2 separate regions of the Homo sapiens genome follow, and region 2 is linked to region 1. A link means that fine-mapping ties the variant in region 1 to the expression of a gene that starts in the linked region. Tissue or cell type: whole blood. Region 1 holds a variant in brackets; the other region holds the start of a gene. All regions are shown on one strand. Distances are from middle to middle. Region 1 overlaps CACNB2 (calcium voltage-gated channel auxiliary subunit beta 2). Region 2 holds the start of CACNB2-AS1 (CACNB2 antisense RNA 1).

Region 1 (15,645 bases):
TCAGGAGCTGGCTTAACATTCAATGATGGCACCCATTAATTATTTGATTCAAGACTGCCTTTCAATAGACTTTAAGCCCCACAAAGCCAAGGCCCTTGTCTATTTTTGCTCCTCACAATGCCTGGCACATAGAATATACTCAATAAATACTTACTGAGGCAAGTTGAATAGTGACCGGGGGAAGAGGAGGAGAAAGAAAGGATTAAGTCCAAGCCCATTGGCGTGACACACTAGATATGACCCTTGGATTTGTTACCAGTCACTCCTTGCCCATGTCCTTTAAGATGTGGGTGTGAGTTGCCTTACACATAATGCTGTGTCATACCTCAAAGCCTTCACACACTATATACCATCTGCTGAACATACCCTTCTCTTCCCTGTAATCCATTTGGTCAAACGTTAGGCACCATTTAAAAATTCTTCCAGGTGTGGATGTCCTGAAGTTGGTGTTAATTACGCCTCCCTTTATGCTACCTGCACCTTGTGCATGCATATAACCAAGTTGCCCTTTTACTTATATGCAGTGTTACTGCTACAGGTTTCAATTTATGGTTTCCATGAGAGCTGTTCATAGGCAGAGACTGGCTTCACCATCTCCGCATTTCTCTAGCAGAGAGTATGCAGCAGACGTTCATTCAAAATTCATCTGGCCACTGCTCATGTTGAGTACTGCTCCAGGCACTGAGAATACAACAGTTCACAAAACATTCTCAAACCCTGCCCTCATGGAGTTTATCGTCTAATTATGGGAGAATGACAATAAACAAAAATAGTACTGGAAATACATAAAAGAGCACTAGAAAACAGAGGGAAAGGAGAGACACAGAACAAATGTGTGCATGTGTATGTGTGCATACATGTACACACGTATACCAAGGAGAATATCTGAGGGAAAAGTGTTCCTAGCAGAAGGAACTGCAAAGTGCCAAAGCCCTGAGGTGATTGTGTAATCTGTCTGGAACACTCAAAGAACAGCAAGGGAGTAAGTACGGCAGGGTGAGAATGAGCGAGGGAAGAGCAGCAAGAGAAAATCTAGGTAAGGACGTGTGGAAGAATAGACCATAGGAGGTCATGTAGGCCACTGTAGGACTTTGGTTTCCATTCAGAGGAAAAAAAGAAGTCACTGGATGGTTTTGAGTAAAGGAGTGGTGGGCACTAGCTCACATCTTAACAGGGTCATGCAGCAGCTAACCTGAGCACAGGCTTTAAGGGAACAACCACAGAAGCAAGGAGACAAGGTGGGAGGCTGTTGCACCAATCCAGGGAAGAGATGAAGATGTCTCAGACCAAAATGGTGGCAGAGGATGTGTGAGAAGGGCTTCGATTCTGAATATATTTTGAAGATAAAGACAACAGCATTTGCATGTGAAATATAAGAGAGAAAGAACAGTCAAGGAAAATGATCTGGGCTGAAGGGTCTCGGGACTGAAAGACGAAGAAGCTATTAATTGAGATAGGGAAGACCATGGGAGGAGTAAGTTTTGGGGGAGGTTACATTTGAAAAGTCCATTAGACATCTTAGTAGTGATAATGAATAGGCAATTGTATACATGGGTCTAGAATTTAGAGGAAAGACTGGCAAAGGAATGGAATTTAAAAATCTGATGCTGAATGAAATCACTAAAGAAATGTAGGTAAAAGACATCATAGAGCTTAGCCCTGGGCTGTCCAAGATTTCCAGTTGATGAGGAAGTATCAGCAAAGGAGACAAAGGAGCAGTCAGTGTGATAGAAGGAAAACCAGAAAAGTGTGGTTCCAGAAACCAAGCAAAGTATTTCAAAGAGGATGGAATAATCCACCATGTCAACTACTGCTCATGGTCAAGTAAGATTAGGGCTGAAAATTTATCCCTGGATTTAGCAATGTGAAGGTCATGGGTGATCTTGACATGACTAGTTTAGCTGAGTGGTGTGGGTGAAAACATAACTGGGGTAGGCTGAAGAAAGTGGAAGGAAAGCCAGTACACTCAATTCTTTCAAGGAATCTTCCTGTAAAGAAAAGAAAAAAAAATGAGACACCTAGAGCAATATGAGGTCAATGTGATAGGAATTAACATTTTTACATGGTGATGGAGTTTCCATTAGAACAGGAAATACTCATGAGGAGAGAGCAAAGGATGATTACGGCTCTGTATGGATACTTCTAGCAGAGAGGGGATGGGGAATGAGATCTAGTGCCCACATGGTGGGTTGGCCCTTGCTGGGAACATAGTCATTGGAGATAAAGCAGAGCATGCAGGCAAACATGCAACTCCACAGGCGGGGTTGTAGAAATGCCTGGATGTTCTCTGTTTGCCTCTATTTTCTCAATGACACGGAAGCAAGTTCACTGGGGGAGCGTGAGATGAGAAGGGGTTATCAGAGGATTAAGGAGGGGGAGATGGCACAGAAGTCTTTTAGAAGAGTGGAAAAGTGAATGGAAGAGGGATATTTAGTGCGATGCCTGGGCAGCAATAGAGGGCCAGTTGACCATGAATTGAGGGTGAGACTGGCCAGTGGTGTCCTGCCCAAGGTCAGCTTATGGATGTAGGTACAGGAACTAGACATCAGGGGTTAAAGATGTACCAAGCAAATATGATAAATATTGATTGAATCAGATTAAATTGAGTGAAACTTGTTTCCTGTCATCATATAGACATCAGAGGGCCATTTTCTCTTGGAATCACACGCATGTCCCACCAGCGTTTTGCCATCTTTAAGACAAAATCCACAAAACCCAGTATGCTGAAATACTCACCGCCCTTCAAATCTGTGTTTTAAAAAATCAAACAGCGCTTTTTGCATCATATCTGTGACCTGCAATTGAGCAAGCAATAAATTAAGATATGACCAAAAAAAATTACTAACGATGATAAAACAATTTTACTTCTCTTAGGAATGCTTGAAAACCTGAGCTTTGCATCTGGAAAGAGTGGCAATATGAGGTTGCCGCATTTTTCTGCTTCTGAGTTCTGATGCAATGACAATTAAACTGAACTTATCATGATGTTTTAGTGACAAATAACATTGCAAGTGGTTTCAGTCGGTCTCCATTTGACACTATTTCCTGGACTGAGTACACTGCAGCTAGCAGAAATCTTCAAAGCAACAGCCAGGTAAACAAAACAGAAAAAGGACGAAGCAGTGTATACCAGTTTGCAGAACAACAGGCTTTGCTGCTGTGAGCTCTCTAAGCTCTAAAGTTGGCTCCTTAAGCTGTAAAATTCAGAGAGAGGGTCGGGAGTAGGAGGCAGCATCACAAAGAAGTTCAGCATGCAAGTTAAGCTTCCTGTGGAAGGCTGCTACCCACCTCGTAGCCCTTCAGAGAAGGGCCCACTAGGACCACTGGTCGCATGGAAGGTACCACATCATACGGAGGAGTGTGCTCTGTCTGCAGAGAGAGGAGAGGCTTTTAGACGTTTCACAGGCAGGTAGAACATAAATATTTTGTGTATAAGGTACTCTTTCTGAACTCCATAATATGAGGCACTGGCTTTCCAGACATTTTATTTTCCCCACTTGCCTCTTTTCTACATAAACCCAGTCAAAGATTGGTGGGTTCATTTTCCTGAAGTTTCAAGTTACTGTTGTCTACAGTCTTCTTGCTCATCTCAAGAAATGCTACAGACCTATTCGTTCCTAAAGCAAGAGATGCTGCTTTTGAACAAAAACTAGTTGACAGAACAAAGAGAAACATGCCTCATGCAAGATAGGTGCTTTAGGCTTGACTAGAAGTTAATATTGCTTTTCGGCTGCATTTGAATTTTCTAAAGAGTTGTAGTGATTAGACCTAACATGGTTAATTACAGAGGAAAGAAAGATTGCATTACCTTTGCATCTTAGGTTTTTGTCTTACCTGTGTAAAACCTCATTTCAAAATATTATAACTCTCACTACCAATACTTTTTACCTAATCTCAAAATATTGTAACTCTCACTACTGTCAAAATTCTATATTATTGTGAGAGTTTAAATGAACATGCATGCTTATTTTAGTAAACAGTAATCATGATCCCTGCTCACAGCTTAGTGATTAATGCTATTGAATTTTTTGGTTTCTATACCTTGGTACTTCAAAGGTAAGGTTTATGTGTCTTCGAGGGAAGGTGATTAATGTATAATAATATATTCAACCATGCTATTGTGGTCTCAAAAGGTTCATTATCAATGTGCATATCTAATATGATTCTCAAAAGTAGTTTTCTGTCAGATAACTAATGACATCTTTCTGCAGTAAATTATTTCTTTTTAATAAGAGGGGAGGAGCTAAATTTTGTAGCAATTTCTAAAACTGTCAACACTTTTCAGGTTAATTGCTTCAAATAAAATGGTAAAATAACATCTTTCCAAAAATTAGGTAACAGCAAATTGGTTTATATTAAAATTGGCTCTTTTGATAGCATAAAATGCTAAATTGACCCAAAAATGACTTTTTAAAAAAATGCATAAGAGTGATATGGCCTTAGACACTGCGATAAGCAAATCATTGCTATATGAATCTTTCTGGCTAAGGAGTGTCAAAAAATATAACTTGAGAATCACACACACCAACAGAAAAATGTTCTGTAAATGATTTTAAGAATTCAGTACACTGATGTGCAGATATGAATGTCATTTTTGCATCTGCCCGTCACTCAAGAACATTTTATTGTTGCTTAAAATTGCCCATTACAAACTTTTCTGGCTTCATTTGAATTCACATTGCCTCAGGGGAGAATTAAAAAGCATTTCAAATTCAAAAGCTTCCATCTGAGATTTTACCCGTAGTCACAGACGATATAATCAGAGGGAAGAAAAATATTACCATGACTGTGCTGTCAAATTTCACTGCCTAAAATTTCACCTAGCATTCAGAATTAATTTTAATTGACACAATCAAGGTAGAATACAGTTTTGAACAGAAAAAAAAAAAACAAGACAAACATAATACAGTGACAGCACACGTACCACACAAGCACCACTCTAAAAGCAACCTAAAACATAGAAAACGATCTTCTCATTGAATCTCAGGCTGTTGTTTTGTTTTTGAATTCTACATTGATGTTAACCACATTATCAATAACATAAGAAGAATGAATACCAGTGCCGAAGGCATCATAAGCATATTTCTTAAACTATTTCATTTATACCACCTGGGATCATACTGAAAACGTTTAGAAGCCAAGTCCTGATAACTATGCGGTGTAAGAACACCTTTTCCACCGTTGAAATTATGAATGTAAATTTCCTGCATTTTAGTAACAGCTACCAAGAAATTTTATCTCAAGACTTTAATTCTGAAGTGGCCCAGTGTTTGATAGGTCTTTGGTTCCTTCGATCTGTAACTGCCAACTAGCAAAGGGTCACCCGTTGCTGGTAATCAATCAGCTTCTTAATCAATAGGGTAGCTACAGAAATTACCTTATTTGATGGAATATTGGTGCTTTGTGCCCTATGAAGAATGACGCCATCATTTTTATCTACTCTTCCCTGTTAACCCCATTTAGCTTGATTTTTTTTTTCTTTTTTTTGAGACAGAGTTATCTAGCTCTGTTGCCCAGGCCGGAGTGCAGTGGCATGGTCTCGGCTCACTGCAATCTCCGCCTTCCGGGTTTAAGCAATTCTTCTGCCACAGCCTCCCAAGTAGCTGGGATTACAGGTGCCTGCCACCATGCCAGGCTAATTTTTTGTATTTTTAGCAGAGATGAGGTTTCACCATGTTGGCCAGGCTGGTCTCAAAACTCCTGACCACAGGTGATGCACCTGCCTCAGCCTCCTAAAGGGCTGGGATTACAGGTGTGAGCCATTGCGCCCTGCCTGCTCAAATTATTTAGTGAAAAAATTGTGATAAAAGTTTTTAAAGTTTTAGAATTTAAAGGTAAGCAAACTTCACAAACCTATCTTGACAAACAGGGTTTTAGCTCACATTCCTGCTCCGTCAAGGCCCAAATGTCTTAGCGATGCCGATTTTCTAAGCTTCTGAATGATAGACACTGTTAGTCACTTGGCTGCAAGCTTTAGCTGTAACAAGAAGATCGGACCCCAGAAATGGGCCCACTGTTGTGGGTGAACATCAAGCTGAGGCTATGTTAACACAAAAATCCAAGTGTTGCAATTTTTGCCCAGAGTGCTGAAGTTTTCCCTTATTAAAATAATCATAATTGATTCAAAAAAAGCCAACTTTACAGTTCTGTATCTGACACCTCATTAATGACTTGAGTTCCTCCACAAACCAAAATACATGTTTGCAGAGGAAAAGTGTTCATTATGTGGAGAGTTTGGGGGCAGAGGATAGACAGATTTGACATCACATCTGCGTGTGAGAATATATCCATGGTTTTGCCAGACTTGGCGACATTAGTATGATTCTAAAAGACAGCATGGTAGCTGTGGAAACTGATGGGTAAAAGAGGGGAAAAAAAGGGAAATTTGGGGGGAGGTTAGTGGTCCTTAAAAAATAATGCTTTAAAGCTACAAAATGGGTGAGGAAAAGGCTTTGTCTGAAGTAAGGAGAGCTCAGGAATACCCTATAGTTTCCATTTAGGGGACAAGGAGCCTCGCTGTGTAGCATCTTGGATGGCCAATGGCAAAGGCTCTACGCATGACCACTGGCTGCACTGTCCAAAGGGTGAGATGGTAAAATCTGACTGATGGAGAAGGCAAGAACATCGGGAGAATATTTATATATGACAATAGGAAAAACTCACAGTAAACCGCCAAAACAAGCCTGCAGTTTTCCACTGGTCTTGTTCATCTGCAGATTTTGCACCTAGTGGATTAGAAGTTTAAATACTGACTAAATTAAAACTTGAATACTTTTTTTTTTAGTACAAGCTATGTATCTGGATATCATAAGTCAGAATTTAATAACTGCTTTAATATGTTTGATCATAAGTTAAATTTCTGGATAAAAGAAAGAGATAGAATAAGCATGCACAATTTAGGTGCATTATGTGGAGCTGTCAGTGTTTGACATCCCTGAATGTTGAAACAAATTCCCTTGGTGGTAGATATTATTCCATCAAAAAGGATAAGTACTGTAATGGTGTTTTAACAGGTCACTCCCTGAATTTAGTTGGTTTGAAATGCATGAACTCAATTAGCTGTTGATAGGTTCTTTGCTTGGGACAGAAATGATTGTATTTAATACAACTGTGGGAATTAATGCTAATGATGCCAGTGGCAGGATAAACACAGCTTATGTCAATGTAAACTTACCGATTTCTGCTTCTGCTTAGCTACAGCAGCATGGAAAAGAAACAAATAACAGAGCATGCACGTTATTGGCTTATCAAAGGACGCAGACAGTCAACAGGACTAGAAATGTGACGCAGTGCAGTTGAGCAGGTGGACAATGGGAGCTTGGAAGTTAATGTTACCTTCTTAAAGAAGGGCATTCTTTTCTCTTTGGAGTGGGGTGACGTTACACTGTTTGCACTGGGTTTAGGGGAGCGGTGGTTTGCTGGAATATCATTTTCTTCTGCATCTAAGCCAGTAGCATCTATGTCTATAGCTATATACAGACAATTCAAAAATCAGGTGGACAGGAGAGGAAAAATAGGTTATAAAGAAAATAAAATGAAAGCAAATAAAACTAACCATAGTAAAAAAAACTATCATGAGTGCTCAACACAGTACGCAAGAAAATTAAATTTAAAGGTAAGGCACATTAAGAATGCAAGGTAATCAAATCTAATGAAACTGAAAGATACACTTATAATCTGTTTGCTTGAATGAATCAGTTTCATGCTAGACGTCTTGAATATTTTCAGAGAAACATTTTAAATCTGTAGTTTCAAATATAATGTTGATTTTCTCTGTATCAACTGTATAAAAGTGCAGTACAGAACATTTGACTTCATTACAATATCTTAAACCAGCTTTGAGATAACAAACAACTACTTTGAAAACCTTTATTATAGGTGAATGCAAAAGTAATTGCGGTTTTTGCACTGTTGGAATTTGCCATTTGATATTGG[A/T]ATACATTCTTAAATAAATGTGGTTATGTTATATATCATTTTAATGCGCATTTCTCGCTTTATGCGTTTTTGCTAATGACTTATTACTTGCTGTTTATGTTTATTTTAGACTATGGAAATGATGTCAGACAAAAAGCGAATTTGAGTGACTTTCTTATTCGAGTTCAAAATGGGTCGTAAAGCAGTGGAGACAACTTGCAATATCAACAATGCATTTGGCCCAGGAACTGCTAATGAACGTACAGTGCGGTGGTGGTTCACGAAGCTTTGCAAAGGAGACGAGGGACTTGAAGATGAGGAGCATAGTGGCTGACCATTGGAAGTTGACAGCGACTACTCAAGAACAATAATCAAAGCTGATTCTCTTACAACTACACGAGAAGTTGCTGAAGAATTCAACATTGACCATTCTATGGTCTTTCTACATTTGAAGCAAATCGGAAAGGTGAAAAAACTCAATAAGTAGGTGCCTCATGAGCCAAGCAAAAATAAATTGTTGTTTGGAAGCATCTTCTCTTATTCTGTGCAACAACAATGAACCATTTCTCAGTCGGATTGTGACGTGGGACGAAAATTGGATTTTATATGACAACCACTGACAACCAGCTCAGCTGTTGGACTGAGAAGCTCCAAAGCCAAACTTGCACCAAAAAAAAAAAAAAAAAAAAGGTTATGGTCACTGTTTGGTGGGCTGCTGCCGGTGTGATCCACTATAGCTTTCTGAATCCCAGCGAAAACATCACATCTGAGAAGTATGCTCAGCAGATCGATGAGATGCAGCGAAAACTGCAACACCTGCAGCCGGCGTCGGTCAACAAAAAGGGCCCAGTTCTTCTCCGTGACAACGCCTGGCTGCACATCACACAACCGGCGCTTCAAAAGTTGAATGAATTGGGCTACGAAGTTTTGCCTCATCCATCATATTCACATGACCTCTTGCCAACCAACTACCATTTCTTCAAGCATCTTGACAACTTTTTGCAGAGAAAATTCTTCCACAACCAGCAGGATGCAGAAAGTGCTTTTCAAGAGTTTGCCGAATCCCAAAGCATGGAGTTTTATGCTACAGGAATAAACACACTTATTTCTCCTTGGCAAAAATGTGTTGATTGTAGTGTTTCCTATTTTGATTAATAAAGATGTATTTAGGCCTAGTTATCATTTAAAATCCATGGTCCGAAACCGCAATTACATTTGCACCAACAATACAATGTGCAAAAAAAGATTTTTCTTTTTGCAGATTTTGTGTAAAAATAAGGACAGTGTGAAAAGTTTCCCTAAAATTGCAACAGACATTTGAGAAAAAGAGAGAATGGAAAATTCTCAATCCAGTCAATGCAAAGGAGTCATACACAAGGCCAATGATTCAGGGAGGGCTCCAGGAAGGACAGGATTAAGATGATTTTAGGCTGATGAAGACTAATGGGAAAACACTGGGTCCCAAGATATCCGAGTGAAATCTGTCTAATAAAATGACATTGGAAGACTTCTGGTGACTTATGCAAAGCCACTGGGTTTAACAAAAGAGGCAGAGTGGAAGGGCACGAGGACCCAAGAGGATATGCCACTGGTTTCCTCATCTGTAAAATGAAAGGTTTAGCTTTGTTGCTTGACATGATTTACTTTTCCCATTGTTCCACCTGAAAATATAGTACTTAAAAAGTGTTACAAGAAAAAAAGATGCATAATCTCACTTCAAATTTTACAAAATCCTTCCACATGCAATTGAAATAGCTACAGAATTTTATCAACTGCAGAGTCAGAGATGGAAATAAAGATCAACTTCAAGGCTCTTATTTTTAAGATTAAAAAACTCAAAATTTAAGGGACTTGTTCTTGGCAAAAACTTGGCAGTCAGGATTCAGACCTACTCCTCCTGCGTAAGTGAGTCTATAACCCTCCGTATACCACAGTGCCCACCTAAATGAGTCTGTAACCGTCCCTATACCACACTGCCCATCCAGGCGAAGTCCCTTCTCAATCTGGGTGCCCTCTTTCAGTTCCCTTCACATCCTCAATGGGGTCATGTCCTTGATGTCAGGAGTCAGGATGACATCATAGAGCTGGACTAGCTAGAAAATTATTCTACGGTTAAGAATCAGTCAAGGAGAAGAAAAAAAATTTACTCACTGCAGGAAAGCATCATATTATACATGTTAGCTCTCTAACAAAAACCACAGTACATTTAGATTGAAGGAAGGAACAAATTACCAGTTTGAAATAACAGACAACTTGGTGTTACAATACAGCTACCATTCCCTGGGATACACAAGCTGAACTGCTCACAGCAGCTTCTTCTAACCTTTTCAAAGGATGGAAGATCATCTGACAGGCATTACATTATTTTTCAGTTTTGAAGTTGTTATGAATATTAAATGAAGCAGCCTTTTGAAAACTAGGCTCTCTTATTTAATTATTCCTTTTCATTTGGTGAGGTAGGAAACCTGTGATGGAGTGAATACCTGCCATTGTTTGTACACTATTACAAATAATCAGCTATTGCTTGCATAATGCAGGAGGTATGATTTTCTATCAAAAAAAAGGTAATAATGGAATTAATTCAGTCCTAATTACGTAGACCTAATATAGTAAGTATGTCTTCCTCTTTGCCCCATCTATGCATACTGATGTGCTAAAAGGTTTAACATGTGGTATGTAGAGAAAACATAAAATGTGCCTAGGGCTTTATCCAGTGCTGACTTTTATACCATCCTATAGCTAATCCTTTGCTCATATAGGAAAGTTTCCTTATGGGGCTTATTGAATGGCATAAGCCAGGCAAGAGTCTCAGAAAACTCTTCAGAAATGTTTTTCCTTGAATCTCAACTCAAGCAGCATGTTGTCAGCGCTTTCCTGGATATGAAGGACAAAATCTGCGTCAGGAATTCATTATTCCTACAATACATGTTAACCAAAATCAAGAGTTTCCTTGCTGGTGGTAAATTCCCACAGGTTTTATCTTTCTCATCTTTTATTGGGCTCATAAAGACCACATTCAAGGGATAGTACCCTTTGAGGGCTCTCCTAAAATGAAGATAACCAGTTGGATGTCAGAATTTACAGGACCCTTGGACAGTCAAGTTCATGAGTTGAATTTTGTGATTTGCCCATTGAATCTAGCCTGCTGTGATCATCAGTTGTATTTTTGTTTTTTAAAATAAGAGTGAGGCTGGGCATGGTGGCTCATGCCTGTAATCCCAGCAGTTTGGGAAGCCATGGTGGGTGGATCACTTGAGGTCAGGAATTCGAGGCCAACCTGGCCAACATGGTAAAATCCTGTCTCTACTAACAATACAAAGATTAGCCAGGTGTGGTGGCCGGTGCCTGTAATCCCAGCTACTTGGGACGCTGAGGTGGGAGAATCACTTGAACCTGGGAGATGGAGGCTTCAGTGAGCTGAGATTGTGCCACTGCACTCCAGCCTGGGTGACAGTGAGACTCCATCTCAAAAAAAAACAAAGAAAGAGTGGAAACGTATACATCTTTGGCTGCAACGTTGCCCAGGTGTTTGGCTTTCCACACACATAGCCTGAGTCAGGTTTGAAATTTACCTGTATCTGGACATGAGGGCTGGATATCCCAAATTGAGAACTTTCTATAATGTACTAGTTCTGACATTTGGTTAACTCAGGTCTAAAAACATCTGAGTTCATTTTGAAATACGTAGAATTCTGAAACATGTGGTCACTTTCAAAACATATTAAAGAAACTTACCAAGGCAGTTAAGAAGCATTTTCAAATCTGTTCAGCTACATGTATTTTATTAGACTCAGATGGTTCTCCTTTTAATGAGAAATGTTACTCTTTTTAAATTTCATACTTATATTTCCATGCTTTAGCAAACATTAGTATTTACTTGGAAAGAACTGCTTTCATATATTTGAAAAGTCTCATTCTTCCTCACTAGCATGCATATATTATTATTAGTGATAGAGAGCCTTGGGAACATTTTTTCTGTTTGTTTGTTTATTTATTTATTTGAGACAGGGTCTCCCTCTGTGGCCCAGGCTGGAGTGCAGTGACATAATCATGGCTCAGTGCAGCCTCAACCTCCTGGACTCGAGTGAACCTCCTACCTCAGCCTCCCAAGTAGCTGGGACTATAGGTGCACACCACCATACCCAGCTAATTTTTTAGAAACGGGGTCTCACTTACATTGTCCAGGCTGGTCTTGAACTCCTGGGCTCAAGTGATCCTCCTGCCTCAGCCTCCCAAAGTGCTGGGATTACAGGCGTGACCATGGCACCGAGAACAATTTTTTGAAATTTAAGTTTTGGTGTTAAAGGTTTGGGTCAAGTTAAGCAGAGCTTGGGCTTGACACATATGTACACACGTGTGTGTGGGTGCGATGTATGTATTCTGCAACTGGCTATGACACCAATGCCCAGATGTCAAGTGGGAAATTTTCCAAGTTCTTGACAGCATCCAAGCATATATACTTTAGGCAGATACTTATATTCTTTGGTCTGGCAATGAGTGAGGAGAATAATAGATGAGACCTTTGGAAACGATGAAAATGATCATTACAGACCCATCCACACTTGATAGTTGGAGCAGTTGTGCCTGGAGGTGGATTGGGAGAACTTCTCTTTCGAGCTTTCTGAAGTTTTCCTTTAAATCAGTTGAGCTATTGATATAAAAATTGTCTCAGAGTCCTAATATGCTTATTATACATTTTGTAGTTGGTTATAGCTCCAAGTGACTCAGTCACCAGAAAAGTCACTTGAAAGTTGGTGTATCTCTACAAAACCTTGGTGAACATTTAAATCACCTTTTTAAATATTACACTCTTCATGGAACTTTACTTTTAGTAATGTCAAACATCTGCCTACAAAATGGAATGTTATTTTACATGTATACTAACTTGTTCTTCAAAATGCAGCACCTCCTTTCACTATACAGACGGTCCTTGACATACACTGGTTCAACTTAAGATTGTGCAAGTTTATTACAAATTTTTCAGGACATAACCTTATCATAAGTCAAGGTCTGAACTTTACGATGGTTTGACGTCAGACTTTTTACTGGGTCTGTCCACGTGTTAAGTACATTTTGAGTTACCATATTTTCTATTTATGATGGGTTTAGTGAAGTGTAACTCTATCATAAGTTGGGGAGCATCTGTGTTGCCAAAACCACTGGAGGGCTACAATATGGCTGGAGGGAATGGAAGAATTTTTCTGGTATATAGAAAGAAGTGAGGCTGACATTTGCAGGCAGAACTGCTGCTTTATCGCAAGGTGACATAGTCTTTTTCCACTTTAAGAGCCTAGTAGCAGTCCCTAGAAATCACTGAAATCATCTTTGAGATATATAAGAGTGTAAGGTTTATATAGGAATCCCTGCAACTTCACACATTTGAGAAGGAACAGGATAGGCCTCCCTTCCTCTGTGGATTCAGGGGCTCCGTAATTATCAAGGGAAGGTATAAGTTTCACATAATACCTACAGGGCCTTTCATTTTCATTTCATGCATACTATTTTACTTAATTTTGAGCATCTTAGAATTGCTTGCTTCAAGTTATAAGTAGATAGTTTTTGAAATTAATTTGCTTCCTAAAGCAATTCATTTATTGTGCTCAGATTTTGCTCACTTGAAAGTCCTATATTCTGTGTAGAACTTGGAATTCTATATAAACAGAACAATGGTTTGAATTGCAAAAAAAGCCCATGATCAGTATCTTAGTTTGCCAATGGCTGGGCATGGTGGCTCATGCCTGTCATCCCAACAGTTTGGGAGGCTGAGGAGGAGGATCCCTTGAACCCAGGAGTTTCAAGAACAGCCTGGGCAACATAGTGAAACCCCTTCTCTTAAAAAAAAAAAATCCTATAGTTTTTGCTAAGAAGTCCTTGATTGGTCTCTAAAGGCCACCACCATTCAGGAATGAAGCTGATTATTAGTAATAGAGAAATCCTGTCCTTAAAGCACATCAGTCACTGTGTGACTAGTTCTTTGATTTCTGCATAGTTGTACAACTCTCTGTTTTTTATCTCTTCCCATTTCCAGCTTTCTAGAAATCACACACAGTATCATTTTGCTGAAACACCCTGGCAGTCAACCTTTACAGTCTTACTCTGATTCCCAATAACAATTCTCTTAGCAAACTAAGATACTGATCATGTGCTTTTTTTTGCAATTCAAATCATTAGTCTCCTGTCTATATAGAATTCCATGTTCTACACAGAATAGGAGAGTTCCCAGATTTAGCAAATATAAATGCAGTTAAATTTGAATTTAAAACAATGTTTTAGCATAAGTATGTTCCATACATTTTTAGTGTAAGTATGCCCCATGCAATATGTACTTAAACTAGTAAATTATTGTTTATCTGAAATTCAAATTTAAGTAGGTGTGCTTTATTTTATCCAGCAACCATTAGGATGAACCCACTGCTTTGGAAAGAAAACAGTAGTTACTGTTCCCACACACATTTTCATCTTTTTTCTATACTTCTTGTCTGTGTCTTCCACAGAACTTTTCTGGTAGAGCCCACAACAGGCCAATCCTCTATCTTCACTTTACCCTCTGTTCCTTACCTTTCTAAAGTTTTTATCCTTCTGTTTAATGTTAAGGTTATATCTCACATTGTGCTATGGTTGTTGGCAAGTATTCACCCATTTACTGCCCATGACAAGCACCATCGCAGGAACTAGGGATTAAAGGTTAATATGGCTGGGTGCAGTGGCTTACATCTGTAAACCCAGCACTTTGGGAGCCTAAGGCAGGTGGATCGCTTGAACTCAGGAGTTCGAGACCAGCCTGGGCAACATGGTGAAACTCCATCTCTACAAAAAATACAAAAATTAGCCGGGCATGGTGGTGTGCACCTGTAGTCCCAGCTACTTGGGAAGCGGAGGTGGGGGGATCACTTGAGCCCTGGAGGCAGAGGCGCAGTGAGCTGCGATCATGCCACTGCACTCCAGCGTGGGCAATAGAGTGAGACTCTGTCTCAAAAAAATAAATAAATAAATAAATAAATACATTAATCACTTTGATCATCTACAGCAATGTAAACACTTTGACATACTTCTTTTTCCAGCCAGAAAAAAACATTTCCCCATATTGTTTGTAACTCCAAAAGGGCATGCTCACTTCTGATTCCTTTTAACATCTGTAGGGTTAACATAGTGATTCAGTGTATACGTAAATTCACAAAACTGGATAGAGCTGGGGAAAGCATGAAATGCAGTATGTATTATTCAGCATTTATCACCTACTTACCAGATGATGGAGGTGTTGATTTTCTGGAACTAGGTACTATGTCACCCAAACTGGATGATGAATTTCCTCCTGATTTACTGGAGTAAAGCAAAAATTTCTATTAAATCTGACACTTATTTCGCATCCTCAAACATTTATATTATTCAGTAAACATAATTCATTATGGTTTTATTCAACTTTAAATTTATCTTTCATTTAAGGAGGAAAACAATATTTCCCAGTGGAGATTCCTGGAGTACTTGAAATAGCCACATGATGGTCTCTGATTTCAAATTCAAGGTTTAATTTTAAAAGGACCTGAGAGAATGGAAGAGAACCAGTGTAATTTCTGCAGCCCCCAAGTTACTTGCCCAGATCACAGACAGTGAAATAGCACAGATTTATTTTGCTTTTTATTTTAGAGACCCTCAGAGGCGATGCACAGAACCTTAAGGCTAACACCCAAGATTAATATTTCCTTCTTGTTTGGTTTCAGCTCCTCTGTTTTA
Region 2 (15,645 bases), 30 kb before region 1:
ACACACACACACACACACACACACACACACACACACACACACAACTGAGAGGACCTAGTTTTAAATATAGGAAGTTTTCATTTAAGTTGACTCACCTTTAAGATATACAGGCAATAGTAGAATTTCATCACTGAGATATTTAATAAATTTCAAATATTCTCTATCTGAAAAAAGTCACTGAGTTGTTAACTTGTAGTTACTAATTGATGTAAAGAATTAGATATAAAATAAATTACTCTTTTTTTTAAAAAAATAGAGTTATTGGCTAGTATGGTGGCTTGCGCCCATCATCTCAGCACTTTGGGAGGCTGAGGCGGGCTGATCACCTGAGGTCAGGAGTTCGAGACCAGCCTGGCCAACATGGCAAAACCCCGTCTCTACTAAAAATACAAAAAATTAGCTGGGTGTGGTTGTGGGCGCCTGTAGTCCCAGCTACTCGGGAGGTTGAGGCAGGAGAATTGCTTGAACTCGGGAGGCGAAGGTTGCAGTGAGCTGAAGTCATGCCACTGCACTCCAGCCTGGGCAACAGAGTAAGATTGTCTCAAAAAAAAAAAAAAAAGAGATTTTTTGGGGGTCGTCTTTAGAAGAAGGCCCAATAGGGAGCAAAACTCATTGATAAAAACAGGAAGAGACAGTGGCCAGCGTAGGATATAGGAGAACCATAAAAACTGTACAAATTTAACTTGTCTCCAGCACTTTCAGAAGCCCAGATAGAACATTTGAGGATTTCTCCTAGTCTTTCAAAAATGACTCAGTGGATTTCAGCGTGTATAGGCAGTGTTTGATCATAGATGAATTCATTATTTCCTCCCAGCCCTCCAAAATACAAGGCTAGAGCAACAATGGATGTTCTATAATGATTTAGTTTCTAAAGCTGCCTTTGAGTACATTCTGATTCAACTCTCCTGGTGTTTCCTTTCATATACAAAGGTAGCACTGGTTGTGTATTATTTAACTTCGTCTTTTTCTATGAAGTCTTCGAAGAACTCATCCTCAGAATTAAAACAGCAAGCAGCAAAAAGGAAACTTTAGTTACAGCCGAAACCCACTTTGACTTGAGAATAAAATTAGGATACTTCTGTAAAGGACTTGGATTTCTGTTCTTATTAGGTCACAGCAAAAATGGTATTTTAAAAGGCTACTAGGAGTAGATGAATGATCTCAATGAGAAGGAAAAGCTGACAGTATATCAGAGAGAACTAGAATATAGCAGGTTTGCCATTTGGCATGGAGAGAAATCGAGAATGTGGACTTGAGCCTTGTTGACTTGAGCCATGGCTCTTCCACCTAAGTGACTTTAGGTACATTGTTTTCTATATCTGAGTAGCAGGGATAACAGCTCTACCTATTAGGAATACCTCATTGGTGATAGTCATCTTACTTTGTGGTTGTTATAAGGATTTATTGAGAAAAATTCATATACAGTGTTTCACACAGTAACTGGCACATAGTAACAAAGTTTAAATTTTGATCAGCATACTCTGATTTAAAAAGCACAAGTATGTATACTCTATTTTTAAAGATTTCCTTTAAATTTTTAAAAATTAGGAGCTTGAAAAGCTGAACTTTAGGTATTTCAGACAAGTCCATTTTAGCACAATACCTTATCTCCTGATTAATTTATTCAACAAATACTCATAGATCTCCTGTATGTAAGACGCTATTCTAGATGTTGACGGTACAGCATTGAGAAAGTGGACAAACACTCCATGCCCTTATTCACGAGGTTTCCATTCTAACTAGGAAAGGAAATAAATAAATGAGTTTTTTAGTATATTAGAAGGCAATAATGCAATGGCCCTATGGAGCAAGCTAAAGGAACTGGGGATAGGAGTGTTGGATTGGAATAGTTGCAAATCTACAGAGTGCCCGGGAACGTGACATACATGCAAAGATAAGGAGTAAGCAGTGCAGGGAATTAAGAGAGCTTTCCCAACTGCTGCAAAGATTCTGAGGTGCCAGTGTGTCTTGTGTGTTCCAGAAACAGCAGGAGGCCAGTGTTGCCAAAGTCAAATGGGCCAGAGTAAGAGGTGTACAGGAGGAGGTCAGAGAGGCAACAAGAGACTTGTTTATGTCTGACCTCAAAGACCTCTGTAAGGACTTTGTCTTTGACTCTAAGTGATCATGTAAGGACTTTGACTGTAAGTGATCATGGAGGACATGTGAGGGGCTTGGGGCTGAGAAGAGACAAGCTTAAAAGGACTGCTTTGGCTGCTGTACTGAGACTAGATTGCAGGAGGGCAGGGAATAAAGCAGGTTGATGAAGTAGGAGGCGGTTGGAATAATCCAGGCAAAAGATAAAGAGGCTTGGACCACAATGATAGTGGAAGTGGTGAGAAGTGGCCAAATTCTGGCTAGAATGTGAAGGTAGAGCCAATAGGACTTGGTGATGTTTGGGGGAGTCAGAAAAAGAGGCATAAAGGAAAATCTGAGGTTTGGGACCTGAGATTCTGGAAAGATAGGAAAACTTCTGCAGTGGATTTCAGAGGGAAAGTAGGAGTTCATTTTGGGACATGTCAAGTTTGATAGTATTATAGAAATGTTGAGAAGGGCCAGACCCATGGCTCACGCCTGCAATCCCAGCACTTTGGGAGGCCAAGGTGGGAGGACTGCTTGAGCCCGGGAGTGTAAGACAAGACTGGGCAACAGTGAGACTTCATCTCTATTTAAAAAAATAAGAATAAAAAAGAAATGTTAAGAAGCCAACTGAACATTTAAGTAGGGAATTTAACAAGTTGATGTGGCCTAAAAATGTAAATTTGTGAGTTTTCAGCATAAAAAATGGTATCCAAAGGCATGACGGTGAATGATTATATTTGGGGAAGTCTTGGTCCATCTGGAGTATGACAGTTCCAAGATAATGAAATGCACCTAGTCTAGGCTGCAAGTGTTGCTCTTGCATACTCTAATTACAGAAGGAATCCTTGTCACATAGAACATCATTTTATTTATCCCAAACATTTGAAAGACATTATACCTTTTGCTTTGAAATTCATTCATATGTTTATCTGGTCTTGTGCTGTGTGTGGTCTGATCACAGTTTTCTTTAGGCGGTTCAGCTGCTGAAGCCAGAGGGTGTGCTGGTTTATAGCACGTGCACTATAACACTGGCCGAAAATGAAGAACAGGTTGCCTGGGCCCTGACAAAATTTCCTTGCCTTCAGCTTCAGCCCCAGGTAGGAGTAATTTCATTTTTCTCTGTGTAATAAGATAAATCACAGAAACTGAAGCACTGTGGTAATCAGGGTGTTAACGAAGAGATAAGTAAAACTTCCAAAGTGAACACTGTAATAAACAAGAATGCTTATCTAATTAAATCCACTTTAGACTGCCCATAATTTGCATGTCCTGACAAAGTTTTTTCTCATCTTTGTTCCTGCCATTGTGTTAAAATGGCACAGAGCTTGGGAGTGTTTTTGTTATGTGTTTATTCCCCTTGTAGCTATTCATGTTACTCGGCACCTTTTTTCTAAAAAGATTTTTTTCTCCTTCCCAGTCCTGTATTTTTCTGACATGGAAAATGTTGAGCATTTTCTCTCATGTCACATCAAAGCTCAAATGAGCTTTAATAACTGTGGGATATCAGAAGACCAGCTGAAAGGGAAAAAAGTATTTCTGGATTATTGCTTATTATATAAAATGTATAATATTTAAAAAGCTTTGCTATACTTTCTTTTACCTAACACAACTCTTTATGTTATGGTCTTTATTAGAAATGTATTTTTGATTCAATTTTTAGTCCAGGATATTTGAGATTAAGTTTAAATCTGTAATAATGCTCGCATACATTCAGATACATTGAGCATCTAACTTTAGTACCTTTCTATACAGAAATTAGGTAATGGGAATACATAAATAAAGACAATTCAGAGATGGTTTCTAGTCTCGTAAATTAAGATAATTACATTGTAGATGAAAGGAAGACTTCGGAATTCATTTGGAAATATACACACACTCAAAATATATACCTAAAAGGGATGGGAAGTTTTCCCCTGACCTCCATGGGATAATAAACGATCTGTTTTCTTAAGTATATGTCTGAAAACCTATCTTCATTAACATGCAGATGATTGTCTGTGATGGTGACTTAGGATTATAGATCTTCTTCAGTAGTTTGCAAGTATCATTCAATGCCTTATGATTCCTCTAAACTAATTGATACAGCCTTAAATTATGTTTCCTTTCTTATGTTTGTTTTTCTAGAAACTTTTCTCGCCCAACTGGTATGGGTCAGAGAGAGGTACCTTAGATGCCCAAAGACCACCTTTCAGTTTTGGAAACTGTTAAATAAAGCTGAATTTTTTCTGTTGCTTTCTTTTTTCTTTTTTCTTTTTTCTTTTTCTTTTTCTTCTTCCCCTCCCCGTCCCCACTCCCTTCCTTCTCTTTTCTTTTCTTTTCTTTCATTTTTTGTTTTTTGAGATGGAGTGTCACTCTGTCGCTCAGGCTGGATTGCCCAGGCACAATCTTGGCTCTCTGCAACCTCTGTCTCCCGGGCAATTCTCATGCCTCAGCCTCCCAAGTAACTGGGATTACAGGCATGCACCACCACACCTGGCTAATTTTTGTATTTTTGGTAGAGACAGGGTGTCACCTTGTTGGCCAGGCTGGTCTTGAACTCCTGACCTCAGGTAATCAGCCCGCCTCGGCCTCCCTAAGTGCTGGGATTATAGGTGTGAGCCACTGTGCCTGGCCTTTGCTGCTTTATTGATAATAATGTTCCATTTACTGAGTCCCTGCTATATGCCAGGTGTGATACCACCTTCGTTACTTAAGCCTTGTTTAATAGATGAGGAAATGTGGTTAGTTAACATTACCTAAAGTCACACAGCTAAAATGTGGTAGAGCTGCAATTTGAGTCCACTTGTTTCCAACTAGGAAGCTCAGGCCTTTGATAATGTCACAGTGTTTGATAAGCATGTAATAATAGGTATTTGTTCATCAGGTGACGCATAGTATTGCTTTCCTACTTTACTGTCTGGAAAGCAGCACGTATGTTCCACCAAAATGAAAGGCATTTACTCATTTTTCTATTTTTGGAAGATGTAGTCGTTACAGCCCAATTTGTCTTTTAACTTAAATTGTAGCAGTCATACTTGCTAATTACAGGATGTTCATCCATATTGATCCACTTTCTCCAAACAGGAACCGCAGATTGGAGGAGAAGGAATGAGGGGAGCTGGGCTCTCATGTGAACAGTTGAAACAGCTGCAGCGATTTGATCCATCGGCTGTGCCATTACCGGACACTGACATGGACTCTCTTAGAGAGGCCAGAAGAGAAGACATGTTGCGTCTGGCTAATAAGGACTCTATAGGTTTTTTTATTGCAAAATTTGTAAAATGCAAAAGCACATAGGAGAGGGATGGATGCTCAGAAATGAAAATTCCAAACATTTGCTGTCTGTGGTTTTTTTTTTTTTAACCAAAGTGTTGTCAGGCCAACTGAATGATGATGTGGTTGCTATGGAAACAGAAAAGGCTGCCAGCTGTTTTACCAGGGATCCAGAGACATAGAGGAAGTAGGGGGTGGTATGAGATTATATTTTCTGTTTTTAAAAGATTTTTTTTTTTTATGTATTTAGTAGAGTATAAAGAAAAGCAGATGCCTATAGATGTCTGGAGCATATTTTCATTTGTGATCTAATGTTTTAATTTGTAAAGTGTACAAGTCATTTTTAATGTTAAAAATTAGTGAATCTAACAAAAGGAATAAATTAGCAATATTTGATGTGGTTATGAAAAGTTGTTTTTGTTTCTAGGTTCCTAGTTTCTTAAGGATTCAGGGCATGGGAAGTAAAACATTGACTATGTGCCAATAATGGAGGTAAGTATTTTACCTGACTCTCTGTCTGCTTATTTAGTAAGTCAACCCCCTTTCAAATGAAGTCTGGACCTCCTCTGAATGATAGTGTGAAGTGATAGTCTAAAGACTATCGTAGTCTAAATGGTAGTCTATGTTCAATGTTTTTCATAATTTTAAACGAAAAAGTAAAGTTAGTATTTTCTTTACTTTGTAGATTTAGAAAATGAGATTATTCTACAATTTGGATAACTTATCATGTATTTGAAACATATCAGTTATTAGAAAATGCTTGGTGAGAAAGAAAAAACCAGCTCTGGCAGCTGGGAAGTGGCCTGACCTGACCCTTATAGCTGGGCCTTGGTGTTCTCCTGTTGAACGTAAGCAGTTTCACCTATCCCCAACATCAGACAAGGCAGCCGTACCTATCATAGATCCAGACAAAAAAAGACCACAATCAAGTCTGAATTCAGACAAAAAGCAGATCATCCTTCGAATTGCAAAAATCAAGCATCCCACTGTAGTGGCCAAAATAAGTGACTGCTTTTCAATTTAATTTTACTTTTTAAAGACAAGGTCTTGCTCTGCCACCCAGGCTGGAGTGCAGTGGCATGATTTCATAGCTCACTACAACCTCAAACTCCTGGGCTAAAGCAATCTTCCTGCCTCAGTCTCCCATGTAGCTAGGACAACACAGTTGTGTGCAACCATGCTTGGCTAATTTTTTTTTTTTTTTTTTTTTAAAGAGATGGGATCTTGCTTTGTTACCCAAGCTGGTCTTGAACTCCTGGCCTGAAGCAGTCCCGCTGCCTTGGCCTTCTAAAGCACTGGGATTACATATGTTAGCCATTGCACCCAGCCAGCTTTTAAAAAAAACATTACAGCCTTAGGATTTTGCCTTCCTATTGGCTTTTTAGATCAATCAGAATACTTACTTCCCAGCCATAGTTTTAAGGCTGTCTCATGGTGTTAAATCCATCATACTGTTTTGTTAACTTTCATTCAAATCACCCAAAAGTTATTAGGCCTTGGGCTTAAGAAATGGACAATTGGTTAATAGTTTGATTTCCGCCCGCCCCCCCGCCCCGCCCTCCACAGGTTTTCTTTAGGAATTTCTCATAACTATTTATTGTATCCATAAGGATTGCAAGGTCTCTTGGATCAGGTAAGACCTTTAGATTGCCTCTTCTTTAAAGGAGGCTTTCTTGAATACCTTTCCCTGAGGTTGGATAGGCACTGCTCCCCTTCTCTGTGCCCCTGGCTCCCACATCTAATGTTCTCCTGGCACTTACGACACTCTCATTCAAATTTTCTAGCCATGCACCTTAAGCCCCAGCCCCACACCTGGGAAACATCCTCCAGGCAGAGACCCTGTCCTGCCGTTTCTCTGTCACAGCTTCAGAGCAAACAGTCAATAGATGATTATTGTTTGAGAGAAAAATTATTTCAAGCAAACATGTGTCTCTCTTACATCCCTCATTCTGCCTTATATCCAGTAGCTGTCATTTGACTAAAGAGAAACACTTTTCCTGTGGGACTTATCTTTTTAGGGCTCAGCATACCTCTTTAAACTTTAAATGTCTTTTAAGAAACTCTACAAAAATCATTTTCTGTAATGCTTGCTGCACATCCTTATTTGCTAAGCTGGGATGAAAATGGCAGAGAATCAGCCTAGCAACAAACTTTTACTGGTGTAAATGTTTGATTAATACCAACAAATATCAAAATACAACCAATGCCAGTAAATAGAAGAAAAGTATTTACATATTGGAAACAGGACAAAGAATACTATTCAGAATTTTTCCTTGAACAGAGCTAATTTTCAGTGGGTTTCTTCCTTTCAAAAACTTAAGCAAACTGGAAAATCACATAAACTTATGGGACATAGCAGTATAAGAAAAAAATGCAATAAGGTGAAAAAATCAGGGAAATGTGAGGGAAAATTAATATATATTTTAACATTTAATATTAACATTTCTATGAAACAGAAGAAGTACTTAAGTTCAACAGTGAGTACATTTACTTTAAAACCCTGTGTCATGTTTTAAATAATGAAGCAAAGTACAAATAGTTAAAAGTACAGCGCAGCAGAAATTAAACTCTTGATCCAGAACTCATAACTGACCCAGATTATTCTGCTAGAGCTCACGTTGAATAAAATATTTTATCTACGTGGAGGTATCTTTTTTTTTAATCAGACATAATAGGAAGATTACTAAAGGAACATAAAGTATTTAGCATTGCCCCAAGAAAGATGCCCTGCAGCTGGGAAGTGTTGAATATTTAATATAGTCTCAACTACATGAATCATTTCTAACATGGCAATTAATACTACTACTAATAAACAGTGCAGAAGCCAGCTCTTTATTTGTTTTATATGAATTACTTTAAACCAGGTTTGTTAGACAGTTCAGTGTAGCTGACAGTGAATGTTTAACAGGAATGCATAGCAGACCATGTTAAAAATGTGGCATTGTCCCAAAGTACAACATGACTAAGACATCCTACATTTAGCAGCACCTTTTTGTAACAGTAACTTAAATGAGCAGTAGAGAAAGAGCATAGGAAAGACTGAAATGGATATGACCAAAAAAAAAAAAAAAAAAAACTATTAAATACATTTCCAGCATTTTCTAGGTTGACTACAAAAATGGCTCTACAACTGAGTAGGTTAAGGTTAAGCCTTTGTTGTGTGAAAAGACTGTAACTTTACATTCCGCAGGTCAGTAAATATCCCATTGCCCTTGAGATTATTTCCTCATTTACAGATTTACTACACAGTTTACACATATGTCCACTATACAGTTTTTCACATATAGCGGCTCTTATGTCAAATCCTTCAAGCTAGTTCTTTGAGGAATATTCTGATTTGCACTAATATGTTCTACAGTAAAGTGCAAGCTAAGAATCTAGATACAAAATAAAAAAGATGGAAACTCTCACCACTACTTTTTGAAAGGGATTAATGATAGCAGCAAGTAAGATAAATACTAGCTATGTTTCAAGAATTTAAATATTCTAAAATCATTAATTGGGATGAAATAATAAAGGATTGAACTAATAATTGTGAATCTCTTACCATGACAAAAGTTTTATCAGAAATATTTTATAAATTCAATTTTAATTAGAATATGGTTTCCTACCAATGTAAGAATTGTCAAGTTTATTATGACTACTGATTTTATACTCAGTAAATAAATTTATGTAAACAGTGTAGGGCTAATTAACGAACTGAGGGAAATTTTTTCATATATAAGCTGATAAAACATTATATATGTAACTAATTTTTATTTTCTTTTTTTAAACACCAGGTTGTCACCAGGCTGGAGTGCATTGGTACAGTCACGGTTCACTGCAGCCTCCACCTCCTGGGCTCAAGGGATCCTCCTATCTCAGCCTCCCAAGTAGCTGGGTCTACAGGTATACTCTACCACCCCAGCTTAATCATTTTTAATATTGCGTTTTCTTGGGGGTAAGGGAAATAAGGAGTTAAATGTAAAACAGTTTTACTTATAAAAGGCTAAGAATATTTGGTAAGAACTTGGAATAATCAAGGAAGCAAAACAAAGTAGATTTTATAATTTTGCTGGATAGTTTTTTTTGTTTTTTGTTTTTTTTTCTTTTTTGGAGATGGAGTCTCACTCTGTCACCCAGGCTGGAGTACAGTGGTGTGATCTTGGCTTACTGCAGGCTCCACCTCCTGGGTTCAAGCAATTCTCCTGCCTCAGCCTCCCAAGTAGCTGGGATTACAGGTGTGCACCACCACACCTGGCTAATTTTTTATCTTTTTAGTAGAGACGGGGTTTCGCCACGTTGGCCAGGCTGGTCTTGAACTCCTGACCTCAGGTGATCCACCCTCCTCAGCCTCCCAAATTGCTGGGATTACAGGCATGAGCCACTGCGCCCGGCTGATTTATTTTGTTAAATAAGTTAATGTGCAGATCTGAAGTTAGGTAATTATACACAGGCATTTTCCTGGGACAAACTTCAAGTGCCAGGTACTTGCACTCTTAATACTGTCTTACCATCCAGTTATAACTGGACAAAATATACACTTGAGACACGGAAAAGGTCTTAGCCTTAAACATGATGACATTGTAAGCTTCTTACAGCAGTGTAATTGAGGCATGGAGATAATGTCTTCAAGGTTCCCCTTCTGTGTACATGTCTTATGTAGGATAATATTCTTAACATTTTATTCACTTCAAGTCACCCCATTTTGCCCTGATTTCTTCTGAAGAACAGAAACTTTGGTTATAAGAAGCACTTCTGGGTTCTGACAGACAGTGAACCTGCTGGAGTCGGTGGTGGGGAGGAATGGTAGGTAACTGGGAGGTAAACAAACAACAGGAACAATAGGCAAGGTTAGAAATTGAAGTGGGAGAAGTTATAAAAATTTATTTTCCCACGAAATAATTCCACAAGCTGTGTAAACATTTCTTACTAAAACAAATACTCTAACACACAAAGATTGTACATTTCCAGTGAAACACTCACAGTAAAATTGCCTGTATTTTCACTCTCTAGGAGCAAAAACAAGGAGGCAGCAGATGAATGCTTTCCTAGTTACCTTTGGCAGCAAGCTTACTCACATTCCCTGACTGCTCAATGGGTTGTTAAAGCAACATATAGCACAATTAATTAAATACAGAGCGAGGTGGGCAGAATGCTCGATATCAGTCTCTAGTTTCTTCGTTAGTCTTCAGCATTCCAATTCATCTCAACCATTCAGTCACTCGGTGCACACTTTCTTACATACGGACACACACACGTGCATATAGCGAGTTCCGGCTCGTAGACTCCAGTGCAGTGACTAGAACAGACACTAGCTACTAAGAATGTGTCACAATCAGTGTGAACTGTATGGAGTAGAACAACCTCTGGAGTTTTATATTTACCATAATTTATGGTGGAAATTACAAACTTACTTACAAGGATGGTATAACATTCAGAATTCAAACCTTTTCAAGTCAAGCAATCACACATATTTACAGTATGTACACACTTTCTACTAGAATGAGGATAGGTGTCTAGACAATGTTATTACAAATTTCCTGAATGTGGGCATTTCTAGTCCCTGTAATTCATAAAGCAAATCTGCTGACTTGGCATTAAGACTCTAAAATAGTGTGATCAAACTGATATATATATATATTATATATATAATAAGAAGGTGTTTGTTTGCAGAAATAACATTTACAAACTGTCTATACAGTACACAGTACTAGTACATAGAAAATAGATTCTAACTTTATGATCCCCTTTGTGTAAGGCAAGACTGAATCTGTCCCCAAATTTAGTCAGCCAGAGGTACAAGCAAGAAACAGTGGTCCATGAATGAATATGCAAATCAGATGCCTGCGTATTAACGTATTAAAAATCTGGAGAAACAAGAAATTCCACTTTTTATCTGTGCTGATTCTGGCTTGTTGGATACATCAACTACATTTCTTAAAACACTAACATCACCTGGGTGGCAACAGATTTTGTTCAAGTGGCAGCTACCCAAAACAGTTTTTGAAGAGTCCAGTATGCAACCGGAGGACTGCAGCCATACCAGGCCAATTTATGTAGCACTTACAAAAGAAAAAGTATCTCAATACTCTATCCATGCTATTGCTATTCAAGCAACAGCAATAATACAAAATATTACAAGACAGATCACATATGATTGCAGTGTAGACCCCAAAGACTTTGTTTTGGGGATGCTGTTAGTTATACAAGACTTCAAAAAAAAAAAAAAAAAAACACAAACGGGCAAAACTCATTGGCGGATGTAAACATCCCTGTTCCACTCCCCAGCCTCATTCCGTTTTTTTGATATCACTTCTCCATCCTTTTCACAGTAGCGATCCTTGGATTTATGACGGCTGCGCTGCTTGTTGCACTCGTTGTGGTCCTGCTCTCGATCCACGTCCCGGGAACGGTGCCGGGACTCCCTGTGTCTGTGGTCACTGCTCCCGTGGGTCTCGTCTCTGTGGTTGTGGTCACGGTGTGAGGCATAGTGGTCCACGTGGTCATGGGAATAATCTTCCTTTGGCTCTACGTAGGCAGAGTCTCGACTCTCCTGGGTTTCCGAGTCAAATGTCTCTTGCCTGGAGAGGCCGCGACTTGTCCCACTGCGATGGTTGTGGTGTGGGGCTGAGGAGGAAGAGCGGTGCTGGGATTTCTTGACTGGTTCCACACTAGGTTCTTCTTCAGCTTGGGAAGCAGAACGGATAGGAGCGGAGCGATCAGTCCTCTGATCACCTTGAGAACCCTGGCAGCGAAAGGAGCACACCAGGCGTTAACCAAGGTCAGTGTGTAAAGAACATGTCCCAGAGCAAGTGCATTCAAGCAGAGTCCTTTTTAAGCATCCGAAAAGCTGAAATGAAGTCTAACCTAGCTTCATCCCTTTGGTAACATCCAGTGGCATTTATAAGGCTTTATACTATACTATATTAAATTGGACTTTTGTAAGTGCCTAGAACAGTGCCCATGGTAACTTTTTCCTTTAAAAAAAAAAAAGCAGCAGCAGGGAAAATGTTCTTTTATTTATTCTCCTGTGGCTCAAATACAGATGCAGGTCCCTGAGATTTTTCTATACAGCGGTGTAAACTTAACTACCTCTGCTTGACTGTATGTGAGAATATTAAAAATAGCAAATGCTTACCTGATACAGTGATACAGTATGGGACAGGCACTGTTCTGTAGACCCTTTGTATATAATAACTCATTAATACAACAGCCCTATAAGATCATCTCTTGAGATTATTAATTCCAGCAGCCTCTTGGACAGGTTGCCATTATTATTCCTGAGGTAAGAACAGTTAAGAAATTTGCCCCAGGTTATCCACCCCACAAGTGGTAAGAGGTGCAGCCAGGATTTGAATCTAGGTGATCCACTTCCACAGTCTATGCTACTGTTTAGAAAGTTTCGGTAGTCTGTGTATGTTCCCAATATATTCTGTTGATGGTGCTTTTCTTACAGGTACATACACAGCTCATGCTGGACTTGCTTTGAGTTAATATACTAGAACAAGCCCCAAGCAGGCTACTGGGCTTGGATCCTAGAGGTGTCACCATAGGCAACCTTTTTTCTATGAAGATTGTATATATAGATATATATAAAAACTCCCCTTACCTGTGAATTAGAGGCTAGGGTGGGGCTAAGAGGCAGACTTGAAGTGGCTAATGTACGGCTAAGGAGAGGGTTGGGGAGGCTACTGCTGGGAGGATGGGTGGCCTTCCAGTAGGCCTCCAGATAGTCGGCAAGGTGCTCACAGGCATCCTCAAGCTGGTTCTCATCCAAGATCACATCGAACAGCTCCTGCAGAGGCAGACATTCCAGACCACATTGATGCCAGCCCAGTTTTCACCCCCTTCCCACCTCCATAAGAGGAGGAAGGGGCTCATGAGCTGCACCCCTTTGTACTTGCTCCTGCTTCTATAAGTGCTGCTACTATCTCCCTTTTTATTTAGTTAGGAAGTGTCTGACTACCTCAAATCATTGTTGAGGGCACTGAATGCTTAACTAATAAATAATGGCCAGAAAGGTAACAGTTGTTAAGGACATGGCAACCCAGAAAAGTTGTCTATCAATCAGCAATGAAAAAGGCATAGATACTATGGTAGAAAAGAGATGTATATATATTTGAACAGAATAGAATAGAATAGGAAGAAGCCTGTTCTTGACATAAAGATTGTGATATCTTTTTTCTTTTTCTTTTTTTGAGACAGAGTCTTACTCTGTTACCCAGGCTGGAGTGCAGTGGCCTGATCTTGGTTCAGTGCAACCTTGGCCTCCCAGGTTCAAGTGATTTTCCTGCCTCAGCTTCTCAAGTAGCTGGGGTTACAGGTGCCTACCACCAAGCCCTGCTAATTTTTGTATTTTTAGTAGAGATGGGGTTTTGCCATGTTGGCCAGGCTGGTGTTGAACTCCTGGCCTCAAGTGATTCACCCGCCTCGGCCTCCCAAAGTGCTGGGATTACAGGTATGAGCCACCATGCCCGGCCCAAGATTATGAAATCTGAATTTAGAAATTAATAAGGTAAGATTAGGATGTGAAATTTTGACATTGTCCAAACTTCACAGTAGTTCAGTAGAGAAGAAAATAATGCCACTTTTCAAAAGATTTTTTAGTGTTTATTATAAATTTTAACATATATTAAGCAATCAAATATTTATAGACCCTGAAATGGCTATGCTTAAAAAGAAAAAAAAGCCTGGTGCAGTGGCTCATGCCTGTAATCCCAGCACTTTGGGAGGCCAAGGTGGATGGATCACTTGAGGTCGGGAGTTTGAGACCAGCCTGGGCAACATGGCAAAGCCCCGTCTCTACTAAGAATACAAAAATTAGCAGGGCATGGTGGCGTTTGCCTGTAGTCCTAGCTACTTGGAGGGCCGAGGTGGGAGGATTACTTGAGCCCGGGAGGCAGAGGTTGCAATAGTGAGCTGAGACACCACCACTGCACTCCTGCCTGGGCAACAAAGCAAGACCCTGCCTCCAAAACTAAACCTAGGAAAGCTCTAATACCTCAAGGCATTGCATGTAAAGCATAGACGACAAGTGAGAATCTAGGTAACTTATTACTTAGAAATTGATTTGAGACCATGTGAAAATAAATGTCTCAGACAGTTATTAAGAGCAGACAACTTGATCCCTATGATCAGAAATGAATAATATACCAACTCCAAATAGACTCATCATACAAGCCAAATTTTCGGAACCAGGATCTTGTGTTGGATATTAACAAAGTGAAGTTACTGCAGGATGTACGGAAGCTTTTGGTAAGCTATGATCATCGTTTGGATTACTTGTGCTCAAAACACATGATCATGGAAGGAGGGAGGACAGTTTACTTTGGAATGAATACCACTGTAAGTGATGAGGATTCTCTTCCCTGACAGGTGTTTGACTGTTTTTTTCAAAATATAATGCCAGTTCTGGCCAGGCATGGCAGCTCATGCTTGTAATCCTAGCACTTTGGAAGACCAAGGCAGGAGGATCACTTCAGGCCAGGAGTTCTAGACCAGCCTGGGCAACATAGCAAGACCCCGTCTCTACAGGGGGAAAAAAAAAAGTTAGCCGATCATGGTGGCATGCACCTATAGTCTCAGCTGCTTGGAAGGCTGAAGCAATAGGATCACTTGAGCCCGGGAGTTCAGGGCTGCAGTGAGCTAAGACCATACCACTGCACTCCCAACATGGGCAACAGAGCAAGACCTTGTCCCCCAAAAAAAAAAAAAAAAAAAAAAAAAAAAAAGGTCTGATCTCTGTAACTGGATTATGCTGTATATAGAGATAACTTACTGGAGGACACTGAGCCAGTTTATCAGCTGCTACCATCTGGACGTTGAGGTGTTTAGCTTGAGATTTCCCTCGAGATTTTATTAACCTTTGTAAAACCTGTAAAAGATAATGAGTTTTTAACAGAGTAATAACTACATCCAGGTAAAGTACAAGGTACATTATTGACTCCTTTCTCTGGGGCCTTTTTATATACAGCACAAGGGGCTTATAATAGATGGAGCTATAAGATTATCTGCAAAATTAACATGTTAACATAAATCACAGTTGCAAGCTTTAAGCACTCACATTTTTTCTATGCTAGCAGCTCTCAAACATTTTATCTCACAACCTCTTTAAAGAAGCTAAAATGGAAAACTATTAAAACATTTATTTAAAAATTCACAATAAATCTGATACATGTTAAAATATATATATATATATTTTTGAGATGTAGTCTCGCTCTGTTGCCCAGGCTGGAGTGCAGTGGTGCGATCTCGGCTCACTGCAAGCTCCACCTCCCAGGTTCACACCATTCTCCTGCCTCAGCCTCCCAAGTAGCTAGGACTACAGGCACC

The links. PIP is the estimated chance that this variant, and not a neighbour inherited with it, causes the effect.
Region 2: CACNB2-AS1 starts here. The variant in region 1 is fine-mapped to the expression of CACNB2-AS1 in whole blood (INTERVAL, PIP 0.93).

What each region holds. Positions count from the first base shown.
Region 1 is chr10:18,506,060-18,521,704 of GRCh38, reverse strand. It overlaps CACNB2 (calcium voltage-gated channel auxiliary subunit beta 2), which reads right to left. Exons shown (of 14, transcript NM_201596.3): 6 at 15,158-15,234; 7 at 7,336-7,469; 8 at 3,289-3,369; 9 at 2,737-2,795. It overlaps CACNB2-AS1 (CACNB2 antisense RNA 1), which reads left to right. Exons shown (of 3, transcript XR_007062076.1): 2 at 2,875-7,303; 3 at 8,045-9,089. Among named protein-coding and RNA genes, the nearest start is that of CACNB2-AS1, 25 kb to the left of the region's middle. The variant A/T (reference allele first, on the strand shown) is at 7,936.
Region 2 is chr10:18,535,643-18,551,287 of GRCh38, reverse strand. CACNB2-AS1 (CACNB2 antisense RNA 1) reads left to right here and starts at 12,012. Exons shown (of 3, transcript XR_007062076.1): 1 at 12,012-12,094. CACNB2 (calcium voltage-gated channel auxiliary subunit beta 2) reads right to left here. Exons shown (of 14, transcript NM_201596.3): 12 at 15,092-15,187; 13 at 12,923-13,108; 14 at 7,731-12,058. The coding sequence ends at 11,564. It overlaps NSUN6 (NOP2/Sun RNA methyltransferase 6), which reads left to right. Exons shown (of 11, transcript NM_182543.5): 10 at 3,051-3,176; 11 at 5,143-5,727. The coding sequence ends at 5,355.